3 linked regions of the Homo sapiens genome follow. The protein of the gene in region 1 interacts with the protein of each later gene in a pairwise test. Each region holds a gene or a part of one and is shown on either strand. Other genes may lie near its edges.

Evidence for each region.
Region 2: the proteins of ARPC4 (region 1) and WASL interact in binary tests that used the Homo sapiens proteins (3 or more experiments, as listed by UniProt).
Region 3: the proteins of ARPC4 (region 1) and METTL21A interact in binary tests that used the Homo sapiens proteins (3 or more experiments, as listed by UniProt).

Annotation. Positions count from the first base shown.
Region 1 is NC_000003.12:9,795,279-9,803,332, forward strand, and holds part of ARPC4 (actin-related protein 2/3 complex subunit 4), read left to right. Parts: intron 1-2,380; coding exon 2,381-2,499; intron 2,500-4,906; coding exon 4,907-5,018; intron 5,019-6,382; coding exon 6,383-6,478; intron 6,479-8,054. Other genes in the region: ARPC4-TTLL3 fusion protein, read left to right, coding at 2,381-2,499, 4,907-5,018, 6,383-6,478. UniProt on the Homo sapiens protein: Actin-binding component of the Arp2/3 complex, a multiprotein complex that mediates actin polymerization upon stimulation by nucleation-promoting factor (NPF).
Region 2 is NC_000007.14:123,682,462-123,690,515, reverse strand, and holds part of WASL (actin nucleation-promoting factor WASL), read left to right. Parts: intron 1-1,365; coding exon 1,366-1,474; intron 1,475-5,935; coding exon 5,936-5,997; 3' UTR 5,998-8,054. UniProt on the Homo sapiens protein: Regulates actin polymerization by stimulating the actin-nucleating activity of the Arp2/3 complex. Involved in various processes, such as mitosis and cytokinesis, via its role in the regulation of actin polymerization.
Region 3 is NC_000002.12:207,621,934-207,630,854, reverse strand, and holds the start of METTL21A (protein N-lysine methyltransferase METTL21A), read left to right. Parts: upstream 1-5,460; 5' UTR 5,461-5,793; intron 5,794-5,866; exon of another isoform or gene 5,867-5,918; coding exon of another isoform or gene 5,919-5,964; exon of another isoform or gene 5,965-6,013; intron 6,014-6,236; exon of another isoform or gene 6,237-6,450; coding exon of another isoform or gene 6,451-6,479; coding exon 6,480-6,626; intron 6,627-8,921. UniProt on the Homo sapiens protein: Protein-lysine methyltransferase that selectively trimethylates residues in heat shock protein 70 (HSP70) family members. Contributes to the in vivo trimethylation of Lys residues in HSPA1 and HSPA8.

The sequences.
Region 1 (8,054 bases):
CGTGAGCCCCTGGGAAGTTTTTTTTCAGTTCCATTATCCACTCCATCTAATGTCAGTCCAACGCTTGTGATACTCTTTGCTTGTGATACAGTCTGCTGTATGTCTCACTTCCCTCTCCAAATCATTCTCCACAGAGCCATCATGCAGCTGCAGTCATGAACTTCCTCCTCAGAAAGCCCCAGTAGTTCCTTACCCCCTTAAGAGAAAAGCTAAACTTGGTAGCCTGGCATTCAAGATTCCCCATGATCTTACCTCAGCCTACCGCTGCAGCCTCATTTAGTGAATCTAAAATGCTTCTCATATACAGAAACATTGTACTCATTACTACTCTGGAACTCTTGCTGTCCTTTTGTGTTACTCTAATCTTAATTATTTCTTTCGCTTATTTATTCTACAGGAAATGAGTGAGACACTGTATATGTTAGGTACTGAGCTAGGTTGGAGGCTATATAGCTGTGAATAAAATAGATATGGTCTGTTGACCATGAGGTTTACAGCCTAGTAAAGGAGAAATCACTTACAAAGGCATGAAGGAGGGCAGGTGCAGTGGTTCATGTCTGTAATCCCAGCACTTTAGGAGGCCGAGATGGGCGGGTCACTTGAGGTCAGGAGTTTGAGACCAGCCTGGCCAACATGGCGAAACCCCATCTCTACTAAAAATACAAAAATTAACCAGGCACGGTGGTGCACACTTGTCATCTCAGCTATTCGCATGGCTGAGGCAGGTGAATCACTTGAACCCGGGAGGTGGAGGTTGCAGTGAGCCAAGATTGCACCACTGCGCTCCAGCCTGGACAACAGAGTAAGACTCTGTCTCAAAAAAAAATAAAAAAGGCCAGGCACGTTGGCTCACGCCTGTAATCCCAACACTTTGAGAGGCCGAGGTGGGCGGATTGCCTGAGGTCAGGATTTCAAGACAAGCCTGACCAACACGGTGAAACTCCGTCTCTACTAAAAATACAAAAATTAGCCAGGCATGGTGATGTGCGCCTGTAATCCCAGCTACTCGGGAGGCTGAAGCAGGAGAATCGCTTTAACCCAGGAGGCGGCGATTGCCGTGAGCAGAGATCGTGCCACTGCACTCCAGCGAGGGTGACAGAAGCGAGACTCCCTCTCAAAAATAAATATTAAGAAGACATGAAAGACATTTTTTTGTCAATTGTAATAAATACTTTATAGGGGGATGTCAAGGTCTCTCTCAAGAGGCCTTCCTTAATTAAGCTGAGATCTGGAGGATGACTTAGGCAAAGAAAGAGGAGAAAAGCCTACAGATAGATGGTCAAGCATGTGTAAAGCTCTGAGGTGGGAAAGAATTTGGCTGATACAAGGACTGACCAGTGCAGCTAGAAGCTAATCCCTCTCCTAAGAATGTCCTTATTCTGGCAGGGTGTGGTGGCTCACGCCTGTAAACCCAGCACTTTGGGAGGCCAAGGCGGGCAGATTACAAGGTCAGGAGATTGAGACCATCCTGGCTAACACCGTGAAACCCTGTCTCTACTAAAAATACAAAAAGTTAGCCGGGTGTGGTGGTGGGCGCCTGTAGTCCCAGCTACTTGGGAGGCTGAGGCAGGAGAAGGGCATGAACCCGGGAGGTGGAGCTTGCAGTGAGCCGAGATCGTGCCACCGCGCTCCAGCCTGGGCAACAGAGCGAGACTCTGTCTCAAAAAAAAAAAAAAAAAAAGAATGTCCTTATTCTCCTTTTTCTCCTCCTAATCCCATTTCACCTTCAAAACCAGTTTCTTCTGCAAATATAGATTACTTGTAAATCTAAATATTTCACATGTCATCTTTATATCATAGTTATTTTCTGTATATTTGCTATCCAGTTGAGCTGTTTGAGGGTAGAGACAGTGTTAATCATCTTTGAATTCCCAGTTAGCTCAGTGCGTGGCAAACAGTACACCTATACATTTGTTGGCCTAATAGATTGACGACAATCATGCATTCACTGGTGTGTCTCTAGATCACTTTCTCAACCTTAGCACTATTGATATTTGAGTCTCGATAATTCTTTGTAGTGCATTGTAGTATGTTTAGTGGATATCTGTCCACTGAATGCCTGCAGTTCCCCTTCTTGCCAAGTCATGACAATTGAAAATGTCTCAGCATTCCTCTGGTCTGACCCCAGGTTAAAAAAGAAAGAAAGGAAATGTCTCGACATTACCAAATGTACCCTGGCAGGCAAAATTGTCTCCTGTTGAAAACTACCACTCTACACCTTGGAAGGCGTCTCGAAGGCCTAGTCTGTTCTGTTCACAGTAGTGTCTTAAGAGCCTTGCACCCTCAGTGCTACCTGGCTTCATGGGAGCTGGAATAGGGGATCGGTGGGTTTGGCGTGACAGATTTTGATCTTCCCTTTCCTCTGTGTTATTTCCTATAGACTGCCACTCTCCGCCCCTACCTGAGTGCCGTGCGGGCCACATTGCAGGCTGCCCTCTGCCTGGAGAACTTCTCCTCCCAGGTTGTGGAACGACACAACAAGCCGGAAGTGGAAGTCAGGTAGGGAAGGACAAGTCAAGGTGGGGATGAGGGGTGCAGCACACAGAGATGGCTGCTGTCTAGAAGGTGCCATGAACTTATGTCCTGCAGTAGTCAGGAAAGCTGCAGTTGACATTTTGTCTTGCTGCCAGCTGAATGGTGATTCCCAATTTGGAGTTAAGAAAATAGGGTCAGTGGGTTGGCAGGACAGAACCCAGGGGAAAAGACAAGATTGGTTAACACAAGGTATGACTTCTCAGAGCAGGGCTGTTGATGAAGTCTCTCCTGTGGCATTGTTGAAAACACTGGTAGTTTAAGGAATGGTCAGATAATTGTTATCTGAGATTCCATCTCCATACTTTTCTTTTTTTTTTTTTTTTTTCCCATCTCCATACTTTTCTAATGTAATGATCAGGGATTTTTTTTTTACCTACCAGCCTAGACACTCTGACCCCCTAATCCAAATACTTCATATTTTGAATGATTTTCTCTTATCTAGTTTCCATTTCATAAATATCTTTTTCCCCTTTAAAATTTAATCTGGAGGCCTGGTGCAGTGGTTCACCCCTGTAATCCGAGCACTTTAGGAGGCTGAAGTGGGTAGATCGCTTGAGTACAGGAGTTCAAGACCAGCCTGGGCAACATGGCAAGACTCCATCTCTACCAAAAAAATATGCAAAAATAGTCAGGCATGGTGGCACATGCCTGTAGTCCCACTTCTCTGGAGGCTGAGGCAGGAGGATCTCTTGAGCCTGGGAAGCAGAGGTTGCAATGAGCCAACATTGCGACAGTGCACTCCAGCCTGGGTGAGACCCTGTCTCAAAAAATAAGTAAATAGGCCGGGCACAGTGGCTCACGCCTGTAATCCCAGCACTTTGGGAGGCCGAGGCAGACAGATTATGAGGTCAAGAGATCGAGAGCATCCTGGCCAACATGGTGAAACCTTGTCTCTACTAAAAATACAAAAATAAGCTGGGCATGGTGGTATGCACCTGTAGTCCCAGCTACTCGGGAGGCTGAGGCAGGAGAATTGCTTGAACCTGGGAGGCGGAGGTTGCAGTGAGCCAAGATCGTGCCACCGCACTCCAGCCTGGCAGCAGAGCAAGACTTCGTCTCAAAAATAAAATAAAATAAAATAAAATAAAATAAAATTCATTCTGGTACATACATAACTGAGATAATCTGGGTTACAACATTAAATGATACGATTTAATTTTTAATTTTAAAAATAACTGATAAAGATGTTAGGATATGCCCTGTTATACTGTGTAACGTACACGATTTCCAGTGGGCCTTTGAAAATGGTTAGCAGTTTAGAGACACCACACCACAATTAATTACTATTAGAGATCTCTAGGTATTCAGAGGCATTACTTTGTAACCTGAACTCATAGGGGTCTCAGAGGCAAATGAATCATTTCTGGATTGATAATTAAAGGAAGCCAAACTGTGTTCAATTTTAGCCTTTCCTTACCTCTAAGACAGGTGTTCTCTCTGTATTCCTAAATGGTATATTGGTTTGCCTGTACAGGTTGAGTATCTCTTATCCAAAATGCTTGGGACCAAAAGTATTTCAGATTGTGGAATATTTGCAGATACTTAACCAGTTGAGCATCCCTAATTCCAAATCCAAAATGCTCCAATGAGGATCTCCTTTGAGCATCTTGTCAGCACTCGGAAACTTTCAGGTTTTTTTTTTTTTTTGAGATGGAGTTTGATTCTGTCACCCAGGCTGGAGTACAGTGGTATGATCTTGGCTCACTGCAACTGCCACCTCCTGAGTTCGAGCAATTCTCGTGCTTCAGCCTCCTGAGTATCTGGGATTATAGGAGTGCGCCACCATGCCCAGCTAATTTTTATATTTTTAGTACAAATGGGATATCACCATGTTGGCCAGGCTGGTCTCGAACTCCTGACCTCAGGTGATCCACCAGCCTCAGCCTCTCAAAGTGCTGGGATTACAGGCATGAGCCACTGTGCCCAGCCAGTTTCAGATTTTGGATTTCAGATTTGCAGATTGGGGATGTTCAACTTGTAGTTACTAAAATAGCTATCTTTTGTAAAGCTCCTACTATGTGCCAGGCACGCTATTAGACATTTGACCCTTTTTGATCTCTCTCAGTCCTCGCCAGTGAATTAGGAATCAGAGTCATTTTACAGATGAGAAAATTGAGATTCCAACAGGGTAACTTGCCCAAGGAAAGTAACAGAGGAGGCTGGATTTCAAAACCTTTTCGCCCTGACTTCAGAGCCTGTGCTCTTTCTGCTGAAGAACACACTCACTGGCCCCCATCTTGGAGCACTCCTGCTTGTGAGTCTTCTATTCCTTGGACTCTATGGTCTCATAGTGATTCCAGGACCTGCGTGGGGTCACTCTGACTATTCTATCCCTCTGTAGTACAAGTACTCTGTCACATTATGTTTTCAGGAGTAGCAAAGAGCTCCTGTTACAACCTGTGACCATCAGCAGGAATGAGAAGGAAAAGGTTCTGATTGAGGGCTCCATCAACTCTGTCCGGGTCAGCATTGCTGTGAAACAGGTAAGTTCACCATGGAGGAGGCCCAACGTAAGGCCTCTTTCAGTCCTTTCAGCCTCTTTCAGTCCGGGGTCCCCATCTGAGAGATCAGTGTGCCAGATTCCAGATTCAGAGTGCAGGAAACCTAGCCTCTGCTTCCTTTTTTTTTGACACGGATTCTCACTCTTGTCGCCCAGGCTGGAGTGCAGCAGCATGATCTCAGCTCACTGCAACCTCTGCCTCCCGGGTTCAAGCAGTTCTTCTGTCTCAGTCTCCCAAGTAGCTGGGATTACAGGCATCCGCCACCACGCCCAGTTAATTTTTGTATTTTTAGTAGAGACAGAGTTTCACCATGTTTGCCAGGATGGTCTCCATCTCCTGACCGCAGGTGATGGGCCCGCCTCAACCTCCCAAAGTACTGGGATTACAGTCATGAGCCACCATGCCTGGCCAGTAGAGGGCAACTCTAAACTTTCAACAGGATGAAAACGAAGCACTGTTATTAAATGCAGACTACACACTGTTTTCTACAGAAACTTATAAACCTGGGGCCTGCTTTCCTTGCTAAAATGGGAGGTTAACAAGTGTTGAGAGGTGTTAAGGGCATGCTAGCAACCAGCAGCAATAATCTTCCTTTAGAAATGTTGAGAGTTCAGGGCCAGGCACAGTGGCTCATGCCTGTAATCCCAGCACTTTGGGAGACCAAGGCGGGTGGATCACTTGATGTCAGGAGTTCAAGACCAGCCTGGCCAACATGGTAAAACCCTGTCTCTACTAAAAATACAGAAATTAGCCAGGCGTGGTGGCACGCGCCTGTAATCCCAGCTACTTGGGAGGCTGAGGCAGGAGAATCGCTTGAACCCGGGAGGCAGAGCTTACAGTGAGTCAAAATCGTACCACTGCACTCCAGCCTGGGTGACAGAGCGAGATTCCATCTCAGAAAAAAAAAAAAAAAAAAAAAAAAAGAAATGTTGAGCATTCAGAAGGGAGAAACTTCAGGGATTGTTGGATGTTCAGTGTTATTAAAGCAGAGACCACCTAAGGTTATCTCTGATAGCCCAGGTGATGCTGCAAAACACCCTGGGAAATGTGACACTAGTGAAATGAGAATGGAAAGGGCAGCTTGGAGTACAGCTGTAGACTCTGAAAGAAGCAATAGAAGCCTGTCAGAATTACCTCTCTGGAATGGGTCGTCATTAAGAGATGCCCCAAGGTAGACCCTTGTTTCAGTTGACAGCCAGGTCCCCCACTTCAGTGATCCTTCCGAGTACCAAACCTCACTGTCTCCTGGGAGCCTTGAAAAAACTGGAGTCAGAAGACCAGGCTACAAGGTGTTTTTGGCCTTGGGTGTCAGCTTTAGAGAAACATTTCTCTCTTGCACTCCCCAGGCTGATGAGATCGAGAAGATTTTGTGCCACAAGTTCATGCGCTTCATGATGATGCGAGCAGAGAACTTCTTTATCCTTCGAAGGAAGCCTGTGGAGGTGAGACCCTGTGACCCATGAGTTTGCGATACCCAGGACCCTGTTACAGAATGGCCTGGGATTGTTTCTAGAACCAGCTACTCCAGCTGTTTGGCACCCACTGCCTGAATTGAGAGTTGGCCTTCATCTTGGAGTGGGAGCAAAGAGGATTAGAAGCTTAGGAAAAGTTGGGTCTACCTCAGCCATAGAAAAGGCAAAAAAGAGCCGGGCGTGGTGGCTCATGCCTCTAATCCCAACACTTTGGGAGGCCGAGGTGGGTGGATCATGAGGTCAGGAGTTCAAGACCAGCCTGGCCAACATGGTGAAACCCCATCTCTATTAAAAATACAAAAATTAGCTGGGCATGGTGGTGGGCGCCTGTAATCCTAGCTACTCAGGAGGCTGAGGCAGAGAACTGGTTGAACCTGGGAGGCGGAGGTTGTAGTGAGCCAAGATCGTGCCACTGTACTGCAGCCTGGGCGACAGAGCAAGACTCCGTCTCAAAAAAAAAAAAAAAAAAAAAAAAGGCAAAAAAGATAAGACACATTGCTTATTCCCGGAGCCTATAGTCTAGCATCAGAAAGAGCACAGTGAATTAGAAATCCTTTCTAAGATCTGCCAAATGAATCATAGTCTCTCTCTCTTTTTTTTTTTCTTTGAGACGGAGTCTCGCTCTGTCGCCCAGGCTGGAGTGCAGTGGCACAATCTTGGCTCACTGCAAGCTCCGCCTCCCGGGTTCACGCCATTCTCCTGCCTCAGCCTCCTGAGTAGCTGGGACTACAGGCGCCCACCACCACACCTGGCTAATTTTTTGTATTTTTAGTAGAGACGGGGTTTCACCATGTTAGCCAGGATGGTCTCGATCTCCTGACCTCGTGATCTGCCTGCCTCGGCCTCCCAAAGTGCTGGGATTACAGGCTTGAGCCACCGCGCCTGGCCTTTTTTTTTCTTTTTTTGAGATGGAGTTTTGCTTTTGTTGCCCAGGCTGGAGTGCAGTGGCGCAGTCTCACTGACTGCAACCTTCCACCTCCCAGGTCAAGTGATTCTCCTGCCTCAGCCTCCCGAGTAGCTGGGATTATAGGCACGCATGTGCTACCATGCCCAGCTAATTTTGTATTTTTAGTAGTTTCATTGTGTTGGCTAGGCGGTCTCAAACTCCTGACCTCAGGTGATCCGCCTGCCTCGGCCTCCCAAAGTGAATCATAGTCTGCAATCTGGGCTCACTGCAAGCTCCGCCTCCTGGGTTCACGCCATTCTTCTGCCTCAGCCTCCCGAGTAGCTGGGACTACAGGTGCCCGCCACCATTCCCGGCTAATTTTTTGTATTTTTAGTAGAGACGGGGTTTCACTGTGTTAGCCAGGATGGTCTTGATCTCCTGACCTTGTGATCCGCCCACCTCGGCCTCCCAAAGTGTTGGGATTACAGGCGTGAGCCACCGCGCCCGGCCCACTGAATCAGTCTCTTAAAGCCACAGTTAACATTGGGTCAGTTGTTGCCTGAATTTGTACTTGAATCTTCTCCACAGACTCCTTGCCAGGTAAACTTAAAATATCCCCAGTGACTAAGCAACTACCACACAGCAGCATGTGCCATCATC
Region 2 (8,054 bases), on another chromosome or scaffold:
GCATAATCAGTGAACTATTGGCATGTTATACATGTAATCCGAGTTCGTTATTTTTTGAAAAAGACCATTTTGTGGTTGAAATTTCTATGGCTATGTTTCTTTAAATTTTTTGAGTAAATCATCAATTTATTCTGTGATGAATATGATTAACATAAAACCATAGACTTACTTTAAAGAGCTAGTAGGAGGTATTGAATACTCACATATATTTTTGAATTCCATGGTTTTAGTACCTCAAATAGTACTTTGTTCAAGTAAGCACTTCAAAAAATGTGTTTGATGAGAGTATGCTCACTTCTGCTTTGTGCTCTCTGCTTTACATTATCACATTGCTTAAAGGTAGTCTAAATGTCCCTACCGCTGTTGTACCTCCTTGAGAGCCTTGTGCAGAAATACAAAGCTCTGAAACTCTCTGTTATCTTTTTTCATTTGTGGTACTTCTATACTGGAAATAGTTAATACATAATGTTTAAAGCCAAAATACTAAGGAATGAATCTATATCTTAGGGGGAACCACTTTGAATTTTTTTAAAAAAGGTGTTTACTCCAGAAAGAACAAGGAGTATTAGAGGAAGAATTGTACAGATCAAAATGGAAAGTTTGTCTAAATAAAATTGTCTTTGGGAAATGATTAAGAATTTCAAAAATATATATTATATATGTATGTATTAAAACATAGGTAATTATTTAATACAGCTATGCTGTTTCATCTTTAATTATAATTTTTTTTTTCATGAATGCACTTTGGCACAGCTGGAAGTACTTCAGTTAGGGATTGTTACTTGCCTAGTGAGGCAGGTACATTTTGAAAGTTGATCAACTCATCTCCTTAAAAAGAAATTATATACTATGAGAAAAGAGGTTCATTTTGAAGGTATAAATGTAACATAAAGGTGTAAAGCTGAATTTTTGTAGGCAAATATAAGTTTCTACAGTTGTTTTTCAATATCTTCAGTGTGCGTCCCACGTAACAACTCTGGAGTCTAAGTATTAACCTCTGTTTATAACATGAAATCCCTTGATAAAAGCTTTAAAGTTGATCATCTAAGTCTGTGTGTGCTGGAATAAACAGAAGTAACCCAGCAAGTATTATTCAGGAGAGGGTTTGTTATCTGAATGTAAACATAGATTTGGAAATGTATTTTTGGCTTATACATTAAGATGGAAAGGAAATATTTTTGAATAATATCTTTAAGGCAGCAGTTTATTTCTTGTTAATTTGATTAATCTTGTCCTGCGCTTGCCAGTTTGATATCTTTTTTGTCTTTTACAATAAGAAGTGATTCTAAGAAAGTAGGACTTTCTGGAGACAAAGATTCTTGGCTAAAGATTTATTACTGAGTTTTGCTAACTTTCTTTTCCAAGGTGGCTGATGGCCAAGAGTCTACACCACCAACACCTGCACCCACTTCAGGAATTGTGGGTGCATTAATGGAAGTGATGCAGAAAAGGAGCAAAGCCATTCATTCTTCAGGTAGAGAGAGAGAGAGAGAGAGAGAGAGAGAGAGACAGAGAGAGTGTGCGTGTGTGTTTAATAAATTTGAATGTTTGACGTTCTGTTATTTTTATGACTGTCTTTGCTAGCTTTCTCTCTGCTAATTGAGTAACTACTGATGTGGGCTCTAGGATGTATTTTAAAAAGTTGTTGCCTGTGTGACTAGTCTCTCTGAGACTTAACAAATGCAACACCACCACAGCCATAGCCATAAATTGAAAGAACAGCTTTGGGAATATTGACAGTTTTGTTTCCTATATCAGGAAATGCTAATAGACTTCCTAGCAAACAACCTCTAAACAAAGCTTGAGATTTTTAGATCTCATTCCTGTGACATTACTGTGACATGAAAAATTCAGGGCTGGGTGCGGTGACTCACACCTGTAATCCCAGCACTTTGGGAGGCCGAGGCGGGTGGATCACCTGAGGTCGGGAGTTCGAGACCAGCCTGGCCTACATGGAGAAACTCCATCTCTACTAAAAATACAAAAAAGTTAGCCGGCGTGGTGGCGCATGCCTGTAATTCCAGCTACTCGGGAGGCTGAGGCAGGAGAATTGCTTGAACCCAGGAGGCAGAGGTTGTGGTGAGCCAAGATCGCACCATTGCACTCCGACATGGGCAACAAGAGCAAAACTTCGTCTCAAAAATAAAATGAATAAATAATAATAATAATAAATCGGGCCATTTACCTCATCTGTAAGGATTAGGGATAAGAATTTCAGTAATTTTTACTGTTTCTAGAGTTTGCTAAAGAATACTAACTTTTTTTAAACCTTTCTTTTTCATTTTCTAAAAGGTTGATTTGAAGAAACCAGTACCTATTCTGAGGTTATTATTAAACATATACATACCACCATATAAATATTCCTTTAAAGAAAGAACAAGAATATGAGTTTTGCTGATTGGAGTAGTTGAGGTTTGCTAAATAGCTTCTCCAACATGATGTGCTAGAATCAGATCTTTCTTCTTAGATTTATTTAATCTCTGTGAGCCTCAGTTTCTTGTTTGTTACATTCAGAGAACTCACAAAACATATAGATGTGAGAATTAAATAGTATGTCACTAACCTGCAGATTGCCTAGCACATAGTAGGTGCTTAATAAATGTTACCTTCCTTTTGTTTCTCTGTAAGGATGTCCATGTCTTAAGATCCTTGAGCAATGTTTGTTTTCCTTAAATAGGCATATTTGTACCTACCCTCCATTACAGAGATAGAGATAAATATTTATTGTGGAATAATAATAAAATTTTAACAAAAAAAAAGTCCCTGCCTTCATCGACATGCATTAGGTCTAATGAGAGAGAGAGACAAGCAATAAACAAAGAAAACTAGAAAAACATACAGTATGTTAAATGGTGACATGAAGTAAGGACAAAAGTCTAACAGAAAAGGGAAATAGGGGGCAGACTGTTGAGAGAGAGGTTCATTTTGAAATGATAAAGGATGATAAGGGACAATAAAGCCTAACTGAGGTGACATTTGAGAAAAGACCAGCAGTTCAGGAAGTGAACCATGTAGAAAACTAGGGAAAGTGTATCCGATGGAAAGAACAGAAAATATAAAGTCTGTGAGGTTGAGAAACAATGAGGAGATCACGGAGCTTGCAAGGGAGGGAGGGAAAGAATAGTAAGGAATGAAATACAAGAAGTAGTAGGAGGCCAGTGGTAAGGCTTTGGAGACCCCTGAAAGTGCACTAGCTTTTATTCTGCATATGATGGGAAGCCATTGGAGGGTTTTTAGCAGAGGTGTAGTAATGATCCAAGCAAGAGGTGATGGAGGCTTGAACCAGGTTTATAGCACCAATGAGAAGTGGTTAAATATTAATTATATTTTGAATGTGGAGATCACTGGTTTTGATGATGGTTTGAAAGTGAAGGTTGAAGAAAAAGAAGAGTGCAAAATGACTCCAAGGTTTTTGACTTGAACAACTGGAAAGGGGAAAGACTTACGAAGAAAAAGTTTGAGAGGGAAGATTAGGAGTTTGATTTTACATATTAAATTTGAGATACCTATTAATTCAACTATAGATGTGGAGTAGGCATTTCGTTATGAGTCTGGAAGTCACAGGAGAGGTCTGAATTGTTAAATTGCATGTCAGTAGGATATACATAGACACCTGGTATTTAAAGTTATGGTTATGTTTATGGTATAGTCTTCTTTAGCATAAAAACAGTGAAAATTACCTAAATTCTTAGCCCTAATCCTCACAGATGAGGTAAACTGCCTGAATTTTTTATGTCATAGTAATGTCATAGGAATGAGATCTAAAAATCTCAAGCTTTGTTTAGAGGTTGTTTGCTAGGAAGAGATAAAGAAAGGTCTTCATTCATTCATAAAGAAATGTAAGGCTTCTGTGAACTACATGATTCTGAAAAAGCATTTATTCTATGCTGGTATCTGTGAGTTCTGCTAAATATTTCCCTACAATAAGTTTTTTTTTAATAGTATGTAATAGTCACGCTAATATAATGAAAATATAGGATGGTTTTTACTTATTTTCAGACCCATTTATTTTAACTGTTAGTATTTCTGTGGTAGTACCTGATGATGAAATTATTAGCTACTTCTTCCTCTTCACCATAGATACTGATAAGTTTCTGTCTTTTGTCAGTCTGTAATGCCAGCATAGTCAGGTGTCTTTGATGCTTTTCATCCAGGTAAATTTTGTGAAGCATGTCTAGCAAAATCTGGTAGCAAATTATTTCCCTTGCTAGAAGAGTAAACAGAAATTAACATGACTCAATTGAACTCCTTTCCAAATAAATTCTGTAACAATTTAGAGCTGACCATGAGACTTAAATAAATAAATAAATAAATAATAAATAATTATCGTTTTAAAAGTAACAACTTAGTTTAGGGCTAAGAGAAGATAATGTTGCTTCTCTTGGGCTTCTGTTAATTTTCAAGTTCTAATACTAGAGCTCCAGTACTTCTTCAAATACTACCTTCACACAATCAATTTTACATGAGAAAAATAGAAGAAAAAGATTGTTCTGTGTTCTGTACATGTAACCCACACGTATGTCACCTAGTCTTACTGGCTTTTTATCATTATCAAGTACAATTACTCAGCCACTGTCCCACTTTATATACTTGGCCTTCATGGGTCCTATATATATATTTATATACATATTTATATATATTTATATATTTATATATAGGTATATGTATTTATATATTTATAGGTGTATATATTTATACATATTTTATATATAGATATATGAAGAGGTTAAATATGGAAAGTCAGTATAATATAGAAGTATGCTTATAAAATCTGATAACTAAATATTCCTTCAACAAATATTTATTGAATGGCTGGTGTGTAGTGCTGTTTTGGTGTTGAGGATACAGTGAGAAATAAGATAGGCAAGGTCCGTGCTGTCATGGAGCTTAATAGATAAAGTACAATAATTTTAGATATTAGCAAGTGATATGAGGAAAGTAAAATGGGATAGGCCGTTACTGATTATGGGGAAGAGCTATACTTTACATATGATGGTCAGGAAAGGCCTCTCTGAGGAAGTAGTTTATGAATGGTTTCTAAATGATGAAAAGATTCAGTTTAACGAAGAAATAGCTACTGCAGAAGTTCTAAAGCCAGAATAAGATTGGTGAGTTTAAGGGACAGAAAGGAGACCATCTTACTAGAGAGAGTGACTTGAAGGGAGAGTACATATGAGAGAAGTTTGGGGAGAGAGAGAGACAATAACTGGACAAATCATGTAGGGTCTTATGGAGGGAGGTAGCATCAGATTTCATTCAAATAGCAGTGGTAGCCACAGGAGGACTTTAAGAAGGGTAGCAACATATTTTTTAAACTTGAAATTTAAATAATATCACTCCATTTGCTCTGAGTCAAATAGACTCTAGAGTTGCAATAATCCAAGCAGGATGTGATGGTGGTGTGGAGAGTAGCAGTGAAAGAGGTGAAAAAGAGCAGGCTTGATAATTGGATCGTGAAAAAGGAGGAAGTAATAATAATTTCTAGGTTTTTGGCCTGATTATGTGACAGGATGGTGATGCCATTTATTGAGATGGAGCAGCAGACCAGGATGGAGCAGGAAAAGAAGATTGGGGAAGGAAATAAAAGTTAGAAGTTTTGAGTTTGAGAATCCATATGAAGAGTACAAGAAGGTAGTTGGATTTGTGACAGAAAGGTCAACCCAGATGATTTTATACATTAACAGGTTGAAATTTGTCACATAGATATTAAGGAACTAGAACCATTGTCTTCTAAGCCCTGTTTTAATCTTTAGTTTACTATCATACTCTATAGATATATTTCTTTAGATTCACTTTAAACTGTTTTAGTAACTAGATTCTTCTGGGAGTCACATTATCTGTGTTTCAGGAGTTAAATAATTGGAGAAACCACCCAAGAATTATGTAATGTCATTTTATTTATGCATATGTTTTAATTGTCTTGATTTTCTTGTAGATGAAGATGAAGATGAAGATGATGAAGAAGATTTTGAGGATGATGATGAGTGGGAAGACTGATCTATATATTATATATATATATATATTTTTAAGGTGAAATACTAAACACTACTTTCTGTCTGTGGATTCTGTAAAATTATCATGTAAATGTTCTACCAATTTGCTGTATATTTTTGTTGCCTTTTTTGCTTTTTTTTAATCTGTGCAATACCTCATTTAATCTGTAAAGGTTTGTCGTAATCCTCTACAAAGCTACTCCCTGTTATTGTGTGCAAGTTTACACCAGGATGCTCACTTGATTTGTGAATATTTTTCATTCCATCAACAAGGGAGTTTAAATACTATATGTGAGACTGACAAAAACCTTAATGTAATTTACTTATAATGCCAGAAGGAAAACACTATTTTCATACCCTACTTTTTCTGTACCTAAATTTTCTTAAAAAAAAATCTAGTATAGCACTACATTCTTTTTTAAGTGATGCAGACCTTAGTTTCTTTAGCCCCTTTATTTTGAATACAATGCTACATATGAATGTTGAAGCTGATACATTGCACAGTTCTGTAGACATCACTACACCGATGTAGTTTCTCAAATTTTAGCAATATGCTCTACATAAAATCACTACAGAGATACTAGTGGGGAAGACGATTAACACACCTCTTACAGTAATACTGCCTGTTATTGGTATAGCAGTGGTATTTGCAGACTGGGATCATAAGGAGCCCTTAAATACTTGTTATTGACTGGGGTTATTTTTATGCTGTAGCAAATGTGACAGGCTCTTTTTAGCAAAATTTTTGAAAATTTTTTTGGTATTACTCTGAAACAAAATTTAAGTTGGAGTTTCAGGGATTTAGGGAGTAGTTTTCATTCTACATGAACTGAGGTAATATTATGGTAACTCCAATATTTGGTTAAAAAAACTATACAAATCAGAATAGTACTAAAATACTGTAGAATTTTAGCATTTTTATTTTGCACTTTGTGTGGATTGAGGTGTTCAGAAATACCAACCATAAAAATGTAATCTAGTTGGCAAAGGTGTGCGCTAAAACACGGAACCGAACATGCATTGATTTGGATAACTTTTGAGGGTTTTTGTCAAATAGCATGTGAAGAGTTACATTTTTCTTAAAAGATTGGTGGTCCCAATGTCAGAGTTCTTGGAACAGATAACTGAATGATAGATTTTTTTTTTTTAAAGATAAAACTTTACAACCTGCACATTTGTTATGCATACTAAATGGTGTGTTAAAATTAGGGTTTCTTTGCCTCTCTACACTACACTAATCTGCCTAAAGGTGGTTGTTTCATATTTATAATGCTAATTATCATACCTACCTACTTTAAATTTTAGGTAGAAAATTATCTGATTTAAATACAAACATATTTTTCTCACATTGAGTAATATGCATAATGTAGTTCCAAATGTATTTCATTACTATAGTCACAATATCCAACTAAAAATTACGCTATCTAGAATTGTACCAACCAAAATCTCGTATTGGCAGATCTTGACAGGCTGGACCTGCAAGATGTGGCTTGAATTTTAACCATTTATTACATAATCTCTAGTGATCATGCATCTAGTTATCATAAGAAATAATTTAAAAGGTTTTGTTGCTGAAAGCAGTAAGTGGTGCAGTAAAATACTTAAGTTATTCAAAGAATGTTATCTTTCTTGCAAGAGTAATTTAAGCACATGGGAAAGATTCTAGACTTTTTGTTTCTTGCAACAACAGTGCCCTCTGCTGCTAGAAACCTTTTTCTACTTACTATCATTTTTATTGTGGCTTGAGCTCAGTCAATCTGGTGCAGATGAGGCTGGACAACTACTAACCAATAAAATCAGGAGTTTGTACAAAAGTTAAATGGAACATTATAATTATTTTAAGTAATGTTAATTGAAAAAATTTTTTCTTTTTGACAATATAAAAAACATTTTAAATTTCCTAGAAATGTCTTCAGGGTAATGCCAATTTAAGATCTCTCTTAACTTGTGGCCAAGAAATTCTAGATTTTCCAGCTGACTTTGGTATAATATATATTTATCAGGAACTTCTCTCAGCAGAGAGTACCCATTCTTCGAGTTCAAAGCACAATTTTAAACATG
Region 3 (8,921 bases), on another chromosome or scaffold:
TATTCTGTCTACATCACTTCCTAAAAACAAAAAACATCCTTTTCACTGGGACTCTGGCTGTATGTATGTCACAGGCACTCCAGCGAGCTTAATCAAGAAAGGAAAATGTCTTGTCTGGTTACCCTGGGTTCCCATGGGACCTGAGAACCCAGGTGCAGCCAGGAAGGGCTCAGGACAAGAGAGGCATCAGGAAAACGGCAGCTGGCAGCTCAGCCCCAAGTTTCTGCTGGTGACTGCTCTCTGTAGAATGGTTTCTCCATCTATACCGCACAGTGAAGATGGCCCCATACAGGCATGGCTTTATATCTCTCCTTTGCTCAAGGGACCGGCCCAGACTGAATGTATTAGGATTGTTTTTCTTCTTCAGGATATGGAAAAAAAAAAAAAAAGCTGCTCAAATGACAGCTTAAGCTAATTAGGGAATTTAATGGCTCAAATAACTGAAAATTCCAGGACAGCTGGATCCAGGTGGTCAAACATCAACAGGAGGCAGCCTCTCTCTCCACCAGCGCCTTCACTGGCCACATTTGCTGCTAGTTTTGTTCTCTTGGGACCAGATGGCCAATAGGACCTCTAAATTTCTATCCTTCCCCAACAGGCTGGTTCTCTGAGAGTCTCAAGTCTCAGAATGGGTTCTGGTTAGGCCCAGCTTTGGTTACATGTTCACATCTCACCTACCTGTGGCCAGGTGGAAGGACTGTGTTCATATTGGCCAGGCCTGGGGCATGTGCCTGATCATGTAGTAAGGGCTGAGGATAGACCAGTCCAAACACATAACAGTATAAGCAAATGCTCTATAAAATGTGTTTGTTGGGCGCAATTCTAAGTAGATAAGTTAACTCATTTTAATCTCAGGTTATCTTTGTTGTTTACTCATACAATAATCACATTATCCCTATTTTATAGATGAGGACATTGAGACACAGGTTAATGCATTTCACCCAAGCCCTCACAGCTAATAAATTGCAGAGCTGAGTTGGTGCAGAACTTGCACTCCAGAAGCTGGGCTCCTGACCATCAGCAGAAGAGAACTGCTGCTACCAGGAAAATGAGAAATAGATGTTGGGCAGGCAGTAACAACAGATGTCTGATAGTCACTCTGCATTCTTTCTGCAGAGAGAATTATGTACCCAGCGTGGGGTTGGGTATCCACCCTGGCCTAAAAAGGGAACATGCCTGGGGGAACATAGGGATCAAGCTGTGCCAAGGTAGTAGCAAGGTGACTGCTTCTACTATGACCTTGGACATGGACTAGTTCCAGGAGACAGGAGGGACAAAGGCCTAAGTGTCCTTCTACCATTATTTTGCAGTCAGGCATCATAGGATTGGGAAAAGGACATTTCAATCATTCAGATAAAAGTAAAAAGCACTATTTTTTTTTTTTTTGAGACAGAGTTTCACTCGTTGCCCAGGCTGGAGTGCAATGGCGTGATCTTGGCTCACTGCAACCTCTGCCTACTGGGTTCAAGAGATTCTCCTGCCTCAGCCTCCCGAGTAGCTGGGATTACAGGCATGCGCCATCATGCCAGACTAATTTTGTATTTTTGGTAGAGATGGGGTTTCTCCATGTTGGTCAGGCTGGTCTCGAACTCCTGACCTCAGGTGATCCGTCCGCCTCGGCCTCCTAAAGTGCTAGGATTACAGGCGTGAGCCACCTCGCCCAGCTAAAGCACTATTTTATACACTGTTAACACTACGATTAAACTGCACTTCGGAATTACAAACAATGCGGGAAGTAAATCTATCTTTTTGCATATTCCTAACAAGACTGTCAGGAGAGGCCAGGCTCAGTGGCTCCCGCCTGTAATCCCAGCACTTTGGGAGGCTGAAGAAGGAGGTGGGGGGATCACTTGAGGCTAGGAGTTCAAGTCCAGCCTGGGCATCATGTCAAGACTCTATGTCAAGACTCTCTCTATACAAAAAATAAAATTAGCTGGGTGTGGTGGCACACACCTGTAGTCCCAGCTACTTAGGAGGCTGAGGTGGGAGGATGCCTGAACCCAAGAGGTCCAGGCTGCAGTGAGCCATGATTGCACCACTGCACTCCAGCCTGGGTGACAGAGTGAGAAGACTCTGTGTCAAAAAAAAAAAAAAAAAAAAAGACTGTCAGAATTTCTTTTTTTTTTTTTTTGAGACAGGGTCTTGCTGTGTCACCCAGGATACAGTGCAGTGGTGTGACTTCAGGACTCACTGAAGCCTCCACCTCTGGGCTCACATGATCCTCCCACCTCAACCTCCCACGTAGCTGGGACTATAGGTGTGCACCACCATGCTCGGCTATTTTTTTTTTTAAATTTTTTTTTTTTTGAGACAGAGTCTCGCTCTGTCACCCAGGCTGGAGTGCAGTGGTGCAATCTCAGCTCACTGCAAGCTCTGCCTCCTGGGTTCACGCCATTCTTCTGCCTCAGCCTCCTGAGTAGCTGGGACTACAGGTGTCCACCACCATGCCCGGCTAATTTTTAGTATTTTTAGTAGACATGGGGTTTCACCGTGTTAGCCAGGATGGTCTCGATCTTCTGACCTTGTAATCCACCCGCCTCAGCCTCCCAAAGTGCTGGGATTACAGGTGTGAGCCACTGCACCTGGCCTTTAAAAAAATTTTTTTAGACATGGGGTCTTACTATGTTGGCCAGGCTGATCTTGAACTCCTGGGCTCAAGTGATCCTCCCACCCTGGCCTCCCAAAGTGTTAGGATTACAGGCGTGAGCCACCACACTTGGCCGACTACTCCAAACAATATGTAGTCTGCCACACACCAACTTGTTTTTAGGATTAAAAATGTATTTTCAAATATTCAGTGGACCACTGGCTTATTTTGATAAAAACAGAGCTCTGCTTAATGGCTACACTGCTATACGAGTTGCATATGTTCCTCAATATTCCTTTTGGTGCTTCCTGAGCCATCTGATACAGCTTAGAACATTGGGAGGACAAGACGGTTGAGAAAAAGTAAATGACACCTTCCTAGAAAACTCATAATATAATGAGGCACATGTTCCATGTTAGAGTGCTGGAGAGGTGGGGAAGGTTTTGCTTTGTTTTTTGAGGTCATATGCTTGATTTCAGCAGAAAGGATGGAGAATAGGGAGAAAAAACAGAAGGGGCCCAAGGCTCCATGCCAGGCTTCAGGGATGAGCAGCCTGGGATCTAGCGAGGTTTAGTAATTTCCCAAAGTCATCCCATTTAAAGAGTCAGAGGAATAATTTAAATTTTCCATATTTGTCTGGCCCCAAAGCCCATACATGTTCTTTCTTGTGCCCATTGCTGGTTCTCCCTGCAAAAAGGGACAGAGAGAAAATAAAGGCAAGAAAGGGAGGTCTTCGATAAAGGGAAAGCTGAGAGGCAGAAACACCAAGTGCAGGAGGTAAGAGAGAAAGGAAATACTAAGAGAGAAAGCGAGAGGACCAAAAAAGAAAACGAAAAAGGAGGTAAAAGTCCCTCACTGGTGGTCTTCCAAGTTCCCTGAGGTTACCCTCGAAGCCACAGGCCCCACCTTCCGATGGAAGATTAATCTGGAGGCCGGGGACGCCGCCTACAGGACGGAAGAGGCCAGGAGAGAGAGGTTCAGGCCCCCGCCAGGCTCCCACCGCGGGAAGCAGGCTCCCGGGGGCGGCCCCGGGAGCTCTTAAAAATATCAGCGCTTGCCGGGCGCGGTGGCTCATGCCTGTGATCCCAGCACTTTGCGAGGCCGAGGCGGGTGGATCACCTTTAGTCATGAGTTCGAGACCAGTCTGGCCAACGTGGTGAAACCCCCGTCTCTACTAAAAATACAAAAATTAGCCAGTCGTGGTGGTGGGCCCCTTAATCTAAGCTACTTGGAGGCTGAGGCAGGAGAATCCCTTGAACCTGGGAGGCGGAGGTTGCAGTGAGCCGAGATCATGCCATTGCACTCCACCCTGGGTGACAAGAGCGAAACTCTGAATAATAATAATAAAAAAAAAAAATCAGCGCTCGGGCGGTAGGGGTGGGGGAGGTGGCAGTGGTTCACACCTGTAATCCCGCATTTTGGGAGGCTGAGATGAGCGGATCACCGGAGATCAGGAGTTCAAGGCCAGCCTGGCCAACATGGTGAAGCCCCGTCTCTACTAAAAACACAAAAAAAGCCGGGTGTGGCGGCGGGCGCCTGTAATTCCAGCTACTTTGGAGGCTGAGGCAGGAGAACTGCTTGAACCCGGGAGGTGGAGGCTGCAGTGAGCCGAGATCGCGCCACTGCACTCCAGCCTGGCGACAGAGCAAGACTCCGTCTCAAACAAACAAACAAAATCCCACAAAAATTAGCTGGCGTGCTGGCGCAGGCCTGTAATCCTAGCTACACGGGAGAATGAGGCAGGAGAATCGCTTGAACCCGGAAGGCGGAGACTGCAGTGAGCCGAGTTCGCGCCCTTGCACTCCAGCCTGGGCGACAGAGAGAGACTCCGTCTCAAAACAAAAACAAAAACAAAAACAAAAGCAAAAAACCAAACAAAAAAATCAGCGCTCGGGCCCCCTCCCATGGCCAGCTCTTGGGGCGGGGGACTGGTAAGGGAGGTTTACCCCAGCTGGTTCTAACGTGCAGCCGCGCTGAGAGCGCAGCGGGCGGTGTGGGGCGAGGGGCCCCAGGAGGAAAAAGAAGCCTGCCCCGGGAGGATGCCGGTCCCCGCACGGTCCCACTCAATGGACCCACTCCAGCCGCGCGCTCTGCCAGGGCCTGCGGCCAGGGTACCAGGCCCTCGGCACCTTCCACGTCCAGCGTGGGTCCTCACGGGCAGGTGCGTCTTGGCATCGGGAGGAGGGAGACTGGGGCACTGGAGTCTGCAGCGCCGCCTGGGGCCGGGGCTGGAGCCGAGCGCACGCCCAGAGCTCCGCGCTTCCGACTGCAGCCAGAGCCCGCCGACCCCCGCCCCACTTTAAAAACTTGGACTCGGGCGCCACGTGTTCACTTCCCCCACTGTGCTTTAGTTGAAAAGGGTTTTGTGACTTTTCCACTCGATTGCCGCCAAGCGGGCTATTACGCCGCTTCTGACCCCACCGTGGAGACGCGGGGACTAGAGTGACCATGCCTTCTTCGGAGCGAGCTGTCTCCATCATCCGCTAACGCGCCACCTTTAAAAAACAGGCACAACGCGCAAGCGACAAAGTCAGAGGCAGAGAGCGGCGGAGCACATGATAGAAAAGGTCGAGAGGCACATTCAGCGCCAGGTGGGTGGCTTTTCTCTCCCGCTAGGAGAGCCCAGGGCACCCCATGCTCTCCCTGTGCACCCGCGGCAGTTCGGCACCCCGATCTCACTCTTGCTCCCGCCCCCACAGCGCCTCCCTCGGCGGCGGGGGAAACGGATTAAGTCGTCCGTGTACCCTGGGGACGCACGAGGGAAAGCCCCGGTCCCCCCTCCCGCAACGTCACTCCTCCACCGCGCCACGGCCCGGCCCCGCCCTCGCCGTGAGCTCCGGGGGCACCTGCCGGAGGCTGGGTGCCGGGAGACCGGAAATGCGTGGCTCCGGGCCGGGGCCGCCCGCCCCCGCGTCGCGGGCTCTTTAAGGCCGGCGGTTTTCGCAGCCAGCCCGGGGCGGGGAAAGCGGAGCGCGCGCTCCACGCGGGACCGCCTCCCGGGCCGTAAGTACCGGCGTGGCGGCGCCTCAGCCCGGCCTGGGCGAGCCCTGGGTGCTCCGCCGGGCAGCTCACGGCGCCCCGTATGGCCTGGGGATCCTAAGAGGCCCTGTGACCCCCCTCGCCTGGTCTCCCTCTCACCCCTGGAGGGTTGCCGCAGCTCCGGGGCCCCCGGGCAGGAAGGGCGCACTGGTCGTCCCGGGAGAGGGGTGAGTGGGGGGCAGCTATAGGGGGAGTTCGGGGAGGCCTCCGAGTCCCCGCTGTCCCCGCGAGCCGCTTGGAGGCCCCCAGTGTCGCTCACTTCCAGGGTCGGGGAGACGGAACTGCGGCGACCATGTATTTCTGGTTTATCAAACCGCTAACACCCAGTCTAAGGGCAGGTTCTGTCCCATTGTTATCACTATCGAAGCAGCCGATGGAGGAGGGGAGGTGGGTAGCGAAACCGTAGCGAAAGAACCCGGGCCGCCCGGCTGGCTGCAGCTGCAGTCCGGGCGCCCGGGTCTGGGTTGGAAGCGCTGCTTTCCGCGCTGCTCTGGGGCCCTGGGCGATCACCGCCGCTTCCGCCGCTTGTGTAGTTCTGAATTCACGGAGTGGTAGCAGTGCAGTGTATAGGGTATTCTGCGGAAGTTGGAATGTTCTGGGCTTTTTTTTTCTTCTTCCCCAAACACATCCGTTGACACAAATTCCGAGCCAAATCTCACTCAGATTCGGAAGAGCCATGCAAAAGAAATTGGACAAAGGCTTCCTCCACCTGTTTCTTTTTTTCTTTTGAACTTGTAAACGACCTTAAAAGCATTTGGAGTTAGTTAAGAACAGATAATGTATCTTTTGGCCAGAGCGTCACCCAGGATTCTTTTGCACGGCAGGTCTGAGCAGAGGGCGGGGTGCAGGCGGAATGGCCCTCGTGCCCTATGAGGAGACCACGGAATTTGGGTTGCAGAAATTCCACAAGCCTCTTGCAACTTTTTCCTTTGCAAACCACACGATCCAGATCCGGCAGGACTGGAGACACCTGGGAGTCGCAGCGGTGGTTTGGGATGCGGTAAGTAAGCCCTGGGGGACCTCTGAAAACGTTCACACTTGCAAGACTGGCTTTTATTTTTTATTTTTTTTAGAACAGCTTTATTGAGATATAATTCACATAGCATACACTTTACCTATTTAAAGTGCACAATTCAGTGCGGTTTTAAAAATACAGTATATTCACAGAGTAGTGCAACTATTACCGCTTCAATTTTAAAAGTTTTACTATCACTGCCACTCTCAAACCCGTATCCCTTAGTCACTCCTCTTGTCCCTCCACATAGATTACATTTTAAAGGTGTAAATGAAAGCTGAGGAAAGTTAATGACTTGTCGGAGAGGATAGGAAGGAAAGCCCCCAACTGCTTTGGACACGAGTTAGTCTTTTTTTCTTTTGAGACATAGTCTCGTTCTGTTGCCCAGGCTGGAGTGCAGTGGTGCGATCCTGGCTCAATGCAGCCTCCGCTTCCTGGGTTCAAGTGATTCTCCCACCTCAGCCTCTGGAGTAACTGGGGCTACAGGTGCACGCCACCACACCTGGTTAATTTTTGTATTTTTTGGTAGAGATGGGGTTTCGACATGTTGGCCAGGCTGATCTGGAACTCCTGACCTCAAGTGATCCACCTGCCTCAGCCTCCCAAAGTGCTGGGATTACAGGCGTGAGCCACAGCGCCCAGCCGAGTTAGTCTCTTTATTTCACAGAGTATTGTAAAGTGGCAGAGCCCAAAATGGAGATTATGTGTTTTCTTTAAGTTTTCCATAGTTGTAATTGTTAAAAAATTGTAACTGCTTTTTAACTTCTTCCTCTCCCTGCCCTGTTCTGACTTGAGCCCTCAGCATCTAGCCCCACACCTAGGACTCAGTGGGAACTCAATTAATGTTGAATGCATGATTGGCATAAATACAGTTTGACAGTTTTAACATTGTTAGGGATGTTAAACACGTAGGAATAAAAATCTCAATATATTCTAATGTAGTAATACCACTTCTAGGAATCCAGTCCAGGTAACTACATGGAAGTTACTCTGGTAATAATAAAGATATAGGCCTGGTGTGGTGGCTCACACCTGTAATCCCAGCAGTTTGGGAGGCCGAGGTGGGCAGATCACTTGAAGTCAAGAGTTCGAAACCAGCCTAGCCAACATGGCGAAACTCCATCTCTACTGAAAATACAAAAATTAGCCGTGGTGGCGCACACCTGTAGTCCTAGCTACTCGGAAGGCTGAGGCAGGAGAATCGCTTGAACCTGGGAGGCAGAGGTTGCAGGGAGCTGGGATTGCACCACTGCACTACATCCTGGGTGACAGAGTGAGACTACATCTCAAAAAAAAAAAAAAGATAAATAATAACGAGGAATGGGAAGACTCGTAAATGCTCACCAAGAAGAGGAATTGCCAATTATACTCACAGTATGCGGCTGTGAGAAATAAATTATAGTAACAAGTTATGTTAGCTTTATACACTTCTTTCTGTAGGGTCATAAACAAATGTTGAAACCACACATCAAGTATCCAAAACTTTGGCCAAAACTTACCTTCTGATGCCCAAAACGTATGGTGAGGGCCCCTGTGGGGCGATGACCATCAGTGACGCAGTTCAGAGACCCTTGGGCAATGTGTTGCTTTTTCCCTATGGGTGAAGTTGTGGCTTTGCTGACCTGAGTTTGGTTTAGGAACTGGGCATTCCCTTAAACAAAATCATAGAAATTGTTCATGTCAGTTCTTGCAGAATAGTTGTGTAAACTTCAAGCATAAAAGTGCTGTGACACAGTAAAAAGTTAAGCTTTCCAGGCTGGGTGTGATAGCTCACGCCTATAATCCTAGCACTTTGGGAAGCTGACGCAGGAGCTCAGGAGTTCAAGACCAGCTTGGCCAACATGGCAAAACCCCATCTCTACCAAAAAAACTACAAAAATTAGCTGGGTGTGGTGGTGCACGCCTGTGTCCCAGTTACTGGGGGTGCTGAGGTGGGAGAATCGCTTGAGCTTGGGAGGTGGAGGTTGCAGTGAGCTGAGATTGTGCCACTGCACTCCAGCCTGGGTGACAGATGGACTGAGACTCCATCTCAAAAAAAAAAAAAAAAAAAAATTAAGCTTTCCAGATCCAGCAGGACCCCATTTAGTGTGGGCATCATCTCTGGGCACTGCTGTGGGACCCTGTGCTTGCTCTAAGGGGGAGGTTACCTTGCTGCACCAGCTAAGTTCCTGTGTGTGTTGTTAAGCTGGGAATTGAACCTCGAAGTGGGAGAGGGGTGGGTGTAGCTGACCTGAAACCCTGCAGCTACTCAAGCACATGTTGACCTTAATCGTCATCACA